3 linked regions of the Homo sapiens genome follow. The protein of the gene in region 2 interacts with the protein of the main gene of each other region in a biochemical or structural test. Each region holds a gene or a part of one and is shown on either strand. Other genes may lie near its edges.

Region 1 (3,600 bases), on a different chromosome or scaffold from region 2:
TGTAAGAAATTTTTTTTCTTTCTATAGAAATTTTTTTCAAATTTTCAACATATCTTTGATATTTGGAAGTTTTACCTTGGTAAAAGAATGGAATGTACCTTGGTATAGGTTGTTTTTGCTGTTTAATGTATCCTTCTTGGGATCTTTTAAACTAAAAACTTCTTTTTTTCCTATACAAGCTCTCTTCACTCTGTTTTCTCCCATGACTGTTCAAGGGTACATTTTTCCTCTTTAAATTCATTTCTGTCTTCTCTTTGTCTGTGAAGGACTCCTCAGAGTGTCTGTCCCACCAGGAGCTCCCCTTTTTATTTCCTAGTGTAGCTGTATATTCGTGCATTTATTTGTCTGTAATATATCTTGTATTATTTCAAGGGAGTTGGTGAGAGGGGAAGAGGGCACAAGGTCAGCTCAGTTTCCCCTCTTGAATCTCAGTACTTCTTTTTATAACTTCATCTGCCAGAATCATCTTCCTCTAGTCAGGTTTCACTTAGTTAGTTCATAGTCTGACTTGCCACATCACCTTTGTTCAACAAACGGCAGTCTCTAAAGTATCTTCATGCCAGCATACAAACCTTTCTTCAGCGTATATATACATTAATTGCCACAGTCATTTGAAAACCATTACTATAGGTTATTGAAATGACCTATATTTCATAGGTTACTGGAACAACTTTTTGAACAACTTTTTGCAATCTACTTTAGTTTTAGAAAAATTAACATGCAGCATGTAAAGAAGGACCAAATCCATTAGCTGATTGGCACCTGAAATCATAAAAGTCAATTCAGAGAGCAAAGTAGTATGTTGGAAGGGAATAACAACAACAGCAGGGGAAAGCAATATGAAAACCTGAACTGAGAGACAAAGTGAAACTAGAATTTGCTGAGTGGCATGGCAAGTGTGCTCTGATGGATATCATAAGTGCTCTGCAATGCATGAAATGTATACATTGAAATTTTCTTGCATTAACAATTGTATGTGCAGACCTTCCATCCTGTTGTGAGGAGTCAGGGCCTAGACCTCGAGGCTCTAGAGTTAAACTCTCATGAGGGTCTCAGGCATCCTGCTGTCCTGAGGCATCCTGAAAGCACTCACTTATGGGGCATTGCCTGATTGAGTGCTTAGGAGTGTGAATGTGCCAGCTGTGGCCATTCTGAGCACACCCCTCTCTCCCAGTATCCTCATTCTGGAAACTACCTCTCTTTCTTTTTTTCCCCCAAATTGACTCACTTTTACTTACCCAGAAATCTAAATAGATAGGCACAGAAATAAACTTACAGAGCTATTTGAATTTTGACAAAATCAGTATCTAAACAGTCTCACTACAGTGTTTAAATACATTTTAGGAAATGGTCTCTCAATACTAATTTTACTATTAATGCTTAGGCCCTCATTATTTTCATTGATATACAGAATTTTGCTTTGCACTTAATATTTGCTTTCATAAACAACTTCGTAATTGAGTGTTTGCCTCCTAGAGGTAAATTTTCTGGGATTCCAATCATAGTATCATTTTTATCAAGTAATTTTTTTCCTTCTAGCACTTACTGTGTTTATCCCAACATTAAATATTATTTATAAACCTTGATTAACTTATTTTTCTTCATTTAAAATTTCTTACCAGTTATCTTAAGTAAACTTTAAAAATATTAATTTAGAATTTTAAAATTCTACATGAAGTCATGAGATGTCTATTATCTATTTTCACTTCATTCAACAGATTTAAAATGAAAAATATTTTGAATTATTTATGTTCTTTTAGGACTTAAAAATTAATAATATTTTCAAACCAATTTATACTTCTATTGAACACATAATTCCACCTAAACATATAAAAATAATTTAATACTAAGTATACAAGGTCTGAAATACTTGGGAAGTACATCGTGAAAAAAACAAACAGAATAATGCATACTTTGAACTTTAAAAATCTATTAGTAACGAGCTAATTTACTCAAGAGTTAAACAGTTGTGAAATAAAATACCCAAATATTAAAACCATTCCACATGCTAAGTAGAAACTTAAAATTTAAAACTTTTTTACCTGGAGATCTAAACTAAGTAGGCTTTGCTTGGTGTCATTTAAGTCTCCAGCTGAAAATGAAACAAAATCAGAGCTTTCTTTAAAAACAAAGAAAGGACAGAAGGGAATGTTGAAAAGTATTTGCTGAACTTCTTAGTAAAATCTAAAATAACTGCCTCCCTTGGGGATAAATGCCTTTCAGTTCTTTGTGCAGAAAATCAGCCAAGAAAGTAACCAGGGAAAATGGTTACCAAGGGAAATATTTTTTTTAATCATAAGAAAAGTAGAAAACAGCAGTGGGTGTGGGGGAAGAGCATTTTGTTTGCAGGCTGAAAAGGCAGAGTTGGAAACACAAAAATGAGCTTGATTAAGAAATCTGTGGTTTTCATAGACTATTCGCATTAAAAATGTTAAAGTTTATACTAGCCAGGATGATGTCACTTGAGCTTTATCAGATTATAGGGATGATATTCTCGTCAGCTAAAGGCTGTGTATATCTGGAATCTATTTTAAATTGGATTAATAATATTTAACTCATCTGCCCACCCACCTCGATCTCACACACAATACTAACAAAACGACAACAACAAAAAAATGGTTACGTATTAATATCAGTGGAAATTATGTAACTTCTAACCATGAAATAATAGAAAGAAAATGTGAAAGGGAGCTGTGTGGCTCCTAATTACCTGTTACGCTGGCAAATTAGTTGTGTACTTTGGCCTCAGTTTCTTTATCTGCAAATGAGAAGTTAGAGACAGATCAGGATTCCAAGCGCAACCCTGCTGTTTATGAGGGACCTTGAGTAAGTTACTTAATGTTTCTGACCAAAGTTCACTCTTCTGTAAAACTAGGGTGATACCTTTCAAATTTTTCTGAAAATAAAAGGAATAACAGATATGAAGGTCCTAACTCAGTGCCTATCCTAGACTAGGTAATTTTAGAACTATTTTTTAAATTTTTTTTTTTTTTTTGAGACGGGAGTTTTTGCTCTGTTGCCCAGGCTAGAGTGCAATGTCGTGATCTCAGCACACTGAAACCTCCGCCTCCCAGGTTCAAGGGATTCTCCTGCCTCAGCTTCCCGAGTAGGTGGGCTTAAAGGCGCCTGCCACCATGCCAGATTAATTTTTGTATTTTTTTTTTTAGTAGAGATGGGGTTTCACCATGTTGGCCAGGCTGGTCTCGAACTCTTGACCTCATGTGATCCACCCACCTCGGCCTTCCAAAGTGCTGGGATTACAGGCATGAGCCACCGCACCTGGCCTGAAATTCTTATATCGTTATTTCAGGGGTCCAAATCATTTGGCAAAGAGGAGCTAAATATTTGTTTAAATGACGTGGTTAGACTGAATCAGGATTTTGTAAAATGACCTAGATAGACTGAATCAAGATAAGGGACTAAATACATAAGCCACTCAACTTCCTAAAAATAAGGAAAATGATATCTATTTTTAAAAATGTAAAACTAGCTGAGTGCAGTGGCTCACACCTGTAATCCCAGCACTTTGGGAGGCAGAGACAGGTGGATCACCTGAGGTTAGGAGTTTGAGACCAGCCTGGCCAACATGTGAAACCCCGT
Region 2 (3,730 bases):
TGCCCTCTCCCCGTCATCCGACTCACGGGCCTGTTCTTTCCATGCTGATGTTCGTCCTCGCTGCTCCCTGCAGGCCGCATGCGGGTGCTGAAGGTGCAGAATTCCTCTCCCCCGGGGAGGCGGCCGTGGACTCCTATCCCAACTGGCTCAAGTTCCACATTGGTATCAACCGGTACGAGCTGTACTCCAGACACAACCCGGCCATCGAGGCCCTGCTGCACGACCTCAGCTCCCAGAGGATCACCAGCGTGGGTAGGTGTCCTTGGGTGCACTCAGGGCCGTCTGTGTGCCGGCTGTGTGGCATCAGGGCTGCTGGGGCAGGCTATGTGTTAGAGAGGTCTGGGAGGCCGTTGCTCATTACGGCAGCGTCACCTCCTGCAGCAATCTGCACGGGCAGCGAGGAGGGACAGAGGGCTCGCGTCTCGTGTGCTCTCACACTGGATGTGCTCCTGATCTGCCGCACGATGAGCGGGGAGACGCCTGGACAGCCGGTCCACTGCGCTCTGCGTCCTCACCTGGGTGGTCCCGGGGGTGCCAACTGGATGACAGAGTCCTTCCCTCCTGGGGTAGAGGAATAGAGGGGTATCTCTGGCGGCGGTGACCCCTCCACCGGAAGCGTGTGCATGGAACTCTCCTGCTTTTCTACACACGACCCTGGCTGGGTGGGGAGACAGCCATGAGCCTGCTTCTTGTGGTTTTGAAGCCGTCCTTCGTCAGACCTCAGCAAGGCGCTGTGCAGTTTCATACTGAGGAGACATAGGCAGGGCTCAGGACGGAGGCCTGGGCCTCCCAGATGGAGGAGTTTGAAGGCAACATCTCCAGGTACTTTGGGATCTGCTGAATTGGACAAAAAAGGGCATCCAGTTGCTGATTTCAGGAAAATATGCCACTGCAGCTTCTGAGCGTGGAGGTTTGGTGCCATTGTTCTCAGCTTGTAGGCGATTGTTTGTGAAGGTCCCATTTGTCACCAGTGCTTGGAGAGGTAGTGAGGGCGGGGCTGAGGCCCTTTAGTGGGAGCAGCTGCTCCCCGGGGATTGCAGGGAGTGGGCCTGGGTGCACACAGCTGTGGGCAGGTGCAGAGGCCATGACAGCCTGAAGGCAGGGCTTTCTTTGCGCTGTGTGATGAGGCCAGCAGTCCCAGGCATTAGCTTCATGTGTGTCTCAGAAGCAACCTTGGTGCTGAAAGGGTCCCAGCAGCCTGGGGTTCTGTCCAGTTGCTGACACAGGACTTAGGTGTCCCCTTTCAGGCCAGCAGGTAGGTTCTCCTGAGCTCTTCGGGGCTGTTTCTGGCTCTCTCTGCCGGGTGCTGAGTTGTTTGCTGGGCACTCACCTGGTCATGGGGAGACAGAACTTGCAGCTCTCTCCCCACCCCTTGATCAGCTCACCTCATAACAGAGATCAGCTGGACAAGCTGGGAGTCCTCTTCCCTCCATGCTGCCTGGGAGTAACCTGAACCCCTGCCCCCCTCCAGGCCCCCCTCCGTGAAAGCGCTGCCTTTCTCCTGCCCCTGCAGCGGTCTGAGGGCTTTCAGCTGTGCTGGGGAACAGTCCTGCAGACAGCCACAGCCAGAACGTCCCTTCTGCCCCTGAGAGTGAGCATGGCCATTAAGGAAATATCCGATGCATTGATCAACATGTTTGTCCATTCAGCAGATTTTACTGGCACCTCCTGCATGTCAGACCCCCTTTCTGGGTGGTGGGGAGTTGAGGATGAGTTCAGCCTCAACGAGATCTGCTGCCTCTGTGGACCTGACAGCCCCAGGAAGAGACACACACGCACAGTGCCCGATCCTGAGGAGGAACGAGCACTTCAGAGCCGTGCACGCCAGCCAGGCCGTGTGGAGAGGAGGGGGCTCCACTGGGAGGGGCTGAGGACCTTCCACAGGGTCTGTCGGGCAGCTTACCTTCCAGGTGGGTCCGTCTTGGCAGGGAGAGGAATGAGAGAGCCGTGCACACCAGCCAGGGCGTTCGGGAGGAGCAGCACGCAAGTTAGAAAGTCCCCAGTGCCGCTGTCCGTATGAGCTTCTCTCCAGCTCATTTTCCCCATCTGTCCAGTGGGATCTCGCTGCGTGGGACCAATGCAAGGATAGGATGAGATGTGCATGTGAGCAAGCTTGTTAAATATTAACTAGTACTTTGTGCGTGGCCTTCCACAACAGTCCCCTCGTGTGCACAGGCAGGGTCTGAGCAGAGGGAGGGCTTTGTGGATTCCAAAGGCCACCAGGCCCTTGGCAGGCAACTGCAGCTCGCCACCTCCCTCACCGACCGGTCAGCTTTCCAACACCAACACTGAAGAGGTGTGGGAGTTCTGTGCCAGGAGCTCCCAGAGCAGCTTCAGGGAGAGTGTGGGGCCCCCTGGGACCTGGGGCATCTTTGCCCACCTTAGGAGTGCTTTGTCCATCTGGACAAGCTAGGCTTGGCTCACTGCCACCCCTCTTTGGTCCAGCTGTCCCGGGGCAGTGGTGCCCAGGCTGCCTGACATTGCAGGGGTGTGGACAGAGCCCTTGCCAGGGAATCCCTACCCCAGGATTCTGGTGTGGCCTCCGCCTGGGTGTGTCCTGGTTAATTCCTGTGCCTACTGAAGGCCTGCCCCAGCTGATCTCGCTCGCTCGCCTCCTAGACCATGCTGGCCACATTGGTTCTCATCCAGTCTTCTGGGGTGGGGACCCGTCCAAGGACAGGCTGGCTGCTCAGTCATTCTGCAGGGCCAAGCAGGGCCTGCAAGGACGATGGGCAGACACAGCCGCATCACCCAGGCAGGACAGCAGGCTCTGGCCCAGGAGATCTGGGGGTGAATCCTGGCTCTGCCAGCCATTAGCCAGAGTGGAAGTGGGCAAATGGATTAACGCCTCCAGCACCTGGTTTCTCACCGAGAACACAGAGAAGGTTATAATCTGGACCTGGTATAATCTGGACTCTGACTTACAAATCTGAATGCCAAGCAAAACCCATTCACTAGCGAAAACTGACTCAGGCTGAACGTATTTAGGGGCAAAACCTAAATTGTCGAGGCTAGTTAAAAGTCCTGATTTTTCTCTGTTACATTGAATAGTCACATGTTCCTCTGAGGAACAGGAGTGGGTTTAATTATGGGGTTCTGCCCTAGACCCGTGTGGGCATGCCATGATCCACACCATGCACCACGTGTGCCTTTGTCATCGAAATACCTGCAGTTCCCAAATACATCTGGCCTCACAGGGTTGTTGGGGCTTAAATGTGCAAATACGAGTAAAGAGGTGAGAGCGGAGCCTGACAGCGCACCTGCTGGGCAGGGTCTCCAACACTGCAGCATTTTGGGGGAAGCTCTCCTACTGGGTGGGGTCTTTGTACAGCAGCAGCATTTCAAGGTGGGCTGATCCTTCTCATCTGGGGAAGCCAGGGCTGGGCAGGTGCCTGAGCCTCATGAGGGTCTCAGTCTAGATGCTGGGCCCTATTCTCCCTGCTGCCTTGGGCTTGGAGATGCTCACAGGTGAGTTCTCATTTGTGAAGAGGTCTGTCTTCCTGAGGAAGCAGGGGACCCTCACCTGTGAACCAAGTGTGCCATGGGAGCTGCTCCATGTCCAGGTCCAGGTCTCCTGGTCTGCAGGGAACGGCACAAGAGGGCTGGCCTAGGCCAGGAGGATGTGATCTGTCCTAGAAGGGGGCTGACCTGCTTGCTGACCCCGCTTGCTGCTGCCTGGCTGGCCTGACTCAGCCACGGCTGTTCCGAGGGCCCTTCTGAGTACGAACTT
Region 3 (3,667 bases), on a different chromosome or scaffold from region 2:
ACCAAACTTACCAGCAGCACAAGTCCCACTGACATGAAGATGGCACAAACAAACATCCCACTCATTCCAATTAGAAAGAGAGAACGTCGCCCTGCCTTCTCCACAAGGAATACCTAGGACAATTTTAAAGAAATTATCTCAGTTTTGTGAGTCACAAAATATTGACTGTTTACTTAAATCATTTTTACTGCCAAAGAGGTCATTTTAATTTATATAACAGATAAGAGGCAATTCCATCCTTCCATTTTACAGGAGTGAGATCAAGGTGGGGAGTGACTCTAGCCCCAGGTGGCAGAGCTAGTTTCAGTGGACAGCGGGTAATGATCAAATATCTGCTTAATTTAGTCACATTGGTTTGAATAGACCATTATAGAGATAGAACCATAATGTTACCACTACTCCAGGATTATCACTTTGGGTACAATATTCACAGACTGTACAGCTGGGGTCTCTTCCAATAGATGTCCTGTACATTTAAAATTTGAAGGTTCCACATTTAAACATGACATTAACTTATTTTCTAATAGTTATCCTAAGTTATAATTACAAGGGTCTGTGCACTATTGACACCGGAAACAGTACAACTGTTCAGGTGTCAACTATTCTCATCCAATTTTCTCACTGCTTAATAAAGTCCTATTATGACCACTCACCTAGCAACATGTGGAATTTGATAATTGAACCAAAATAGGCCTGCATTTTTCTGGTATGCTTAATTGTATCTTGTGCTGGGAGTGAACTATTCGTTTTAAAAGTTAGCACTTTAAAGCAAAGGGTTAAAATGCTTTCTTATCTTAACTGAGGAGATACGTCATTGATTCCTTTAGTTTTGTGGACCTTTGCATTAATGGTTAAGTTTTACAATTAGCCAAGACCAGAGTTTGTTATACTCTTGCCTGATCCTTGGAATATTACCAAGGCTGGTGAGTCACTCTCCCCCTCACCCCCCACAAAACTTCCTGTCATAATTTCTCACTTTGGCACCTGGTGAGCAAGTTGGCTGGCTCATCAGCCTATCAGTAAATCAATAGCAATCCAATGTCTTTAGTATAGTGAGCTCTGGCTCTGAAGACATCTTAGAAACATTTCACCTACAGTGAAAGCCTGTTTCTCAGAGGCACACTCATATCAGAGTTTTAAATCACTTCAGATAAGATGATAAGCTAAGAGCACATATTTAATTATTGAGAAGGAAGTTGGAAAAAACAGACTTTTCTCAAGTTCATTAAATTTCTCTCTATATTTTAACTCTTTTATTATGATGTTCAAAACTGGCTTGGTGCCACCACGTCAAGCTACCAAGAAAATAGAAGCATTTCTTTGTGAATAAGCTCCCTTACTATAAACTCTAAAACTGAACATCTTGAAAATTGAGTTGGCCTCTGTCCCTGAGGCCTGGTGTACACTCAGGATGAGTGTGACAAGGAGTGAGACATGGTCAGTGGCTGGAGATGTCTTCCCAATTAGAACGCTCATCTTTGCCCCAGGGCCTCACGCAAATCCTGGGCTCTTAGTTCCAATTTGGTAGTCACCGCTTCTTTCTCAGTGTCATCCTGCTTCCTAGATCCCTCCATTTTCTTTCTGCTTTTTTTCTCTCAAGATTACAGGCCCTCTTCTACCAGCCCATTAGTGTGGAAGAAAATATAGGATGTGGAACACAATTAGTGTGGAGTTGGGAAAGTCTCTCTTCCCAAAAACAAACTGATGTTCTTCCAATTTGGTGAAACATTAATATATTCAGTGCATATTTCTATTTGCATATTTTTATTTGAAAGTACACACACAATTTGGTAACATTGGTTAATTTTGGGGAGAGAAACTGGGTGACGGAGGGACTATCCTTTTTATACTTTTTGAACTTTAAAACAATGTTTCAAAAATTAATATAATTAAAAATTTTAAATGTGATCTGTAGTCCTGGAGGCTTAATTAATGATTTGGACTGGTTTTAAAAGATTATGTCACTTCCCTGTTCAAAAACTTAAACAGAATCAAAGGATGGACTCTAAAAAGGTACATTCAAAATAATTAGGACACTGTCTTAAACAACTCCTCCCACATCAGTGGGGTTGGGAGCAGGGTGCAAAAATGAAACTTTACAGAAGTTTCCTCTTTAGATTTTTTCAGAATTTAGGCTACCCAATCTTGACAATTTGATGCTTTACATAGAAAATCCTATTATACACAAAATGTTTTAATAATAATCTATCATAAAAAATATGTTGAAGAATTTGTAAAAAATATTCCAGGAGACAAAAGGGTGAATAGTCCCTTGGATTGCACTTCAGAAACAGGTCTTGATTGATTTAGAGTGGCCTTTTGGTTTAAACAGGCCTTATCTCTAAAGGTATGTCTACAGAACCATTGGTGTTTCGTTATTATCTGTTTTTCCTGCTCTTTCCAAGGTCCAGCACTGTTTAATGTGGTCTGGACAAACCTGCCTTTTGATCTGGGTAGCCAGGCTGTAATTTATTGATCACCCTAAGGTAATAGTTAAGAGTTCATGTGCAGAGAATAAAAAACAAGTGACTAAATTATATTGAGTATAGTATTGTGACTAAAATTGAAAAGAATAAACTTTTTGCTGTTTTTATCTTGTTGAACAAAGATAAAAATAAGCTCAATGACTCTCATTCTACAGTGAATTACATTAGTTGGGGAGTTTTTGTCTTTATTGTTGTTTGTTTACTTCTTAGATTATTATGTTAGATATTCTTGTTGTCAGGTTCTTATATATCCTTAATATATAAGAACCATCACTTCTTATATATCCTTAATATATAAGAACCATCACTTCTTATATATCCTTAATATATAAGAACCATCACTTCTTATATAAAGTTATTTGGTTTTAAGAAGAGTATATGACTTTTTTTTTTGTTGGAAGAAAACAATAACATTTCTAGTTACTATGTCACTTCCCTCATAATCTCACACATACTCTCATGCATCACCGGAAGCCACAACCTTGTGAACTACTTGGAAGCTCTGCTCAATGGCTTAATACCATTTGCTGAGTCTGTTTAACTTTGCTTAAAGGCTTAAATGTCTGTTAGAGAGGGCCTTGTTTATTTATTTTTATATGTTTCCCCCAAGGCACATGGTAAAAAAAAGAATTTGAACTATGTAAAAAGAGGAATCTAAGTAGACCATCCAATATCAATAGAAATGACAAGCTGTCAGCTACTCCCAAGGGGTTTATGTACAGAGAAAAGAAGGAACCTAGGAATCTGCACAAGGAGGAAGTTCTCTGTGTCCCCAAGTGAGTTAAAAATTCACAAATGAGTGACTAAATGGCATCCCAGCAGTGCAGAGAATCAGCGATTCACCTCAGTTATGCCTAATCTCAATGCAGTGGTTGGCTTATTCAAACAGGACTCTTCTCATGACTCACTTGGGTTTACACACTTAGAGCATGTGTACAATAAGTCATTGATTGCTTTTAGAGCCGAAGTTCCCCACCCCTCCTGCAATTTCTGGACTAAGGAACAAGCAGAGTATTTATCTAGGGCATTGACTTACAGAGACAGCAGTGAAAACCATGTTTACAGCGCCAACTCCAATGGTTGCATAAACAGGTTTGCTGATACCAGCCGTCTGAAAAATGCTGGTTGAGTAGTAAAAAATCTGCAAAGTAAAAACAGGTTAGCCTTAATCTTAAGAAGTC

What was found.
Region 1: of the proteins of FAM20C (region 2) and ECM2, one has a biochemical effect on the other in vitro, tested with the Homo sapiens proteins (one large-scale study listed by IntAct).
Region 3: of the proteins of FAM20C (region 2) and SLC2A2, one has a biochemical effect on the other in vitro, tested with the Homo sapiens proteins (one large-scale study listed by IntAct).

Annotation. Positions count from the first base shown.
Region 1 is NC_000009.12:92,533,891-92,537,490, forward strand, and holds the start of ECM2 (extracellular matrix protein 2 isoform 1 precursor), read right to left. Parts: upstream 2,101-3,600; 5' UTR 2,043-2,100; intron 1-2,042. UniProt on the Homo sapiens protein: Promotes matrix assembly and cell adhesiveness.
Region 2 is NC_000007.14:195,481-199,210, forward strand, and holds part of FAM20C (extracellular serine/threonine protein kinase FAM20C precursor), read left to right. Parts: intron 1-73; coding exon 74-252; intron 253-1,652; coding exon of another isoform or gene 1,653-2,020; exon of another isoform or gene 2,021-3,730. UniProt on the Homo sapiens protein: Golgi serine/threonine protein kinase that phosphorylates secretory pathway proteins within Ser-x-Glu/pSer motifs and plays a key role in biomineralization of bones and teeth.
Region 3 is NC_000003.12:170,999,054-171,002,720, forward strand, and holds part of SLC2A2 (solute carrier family 2, facilitated glucose transporter member 2), read right to left. Parts: intron 3,628-3,667; coding exon 3,523-3,627; intron 114-3,522; coding exon 12-113; intron 1-11.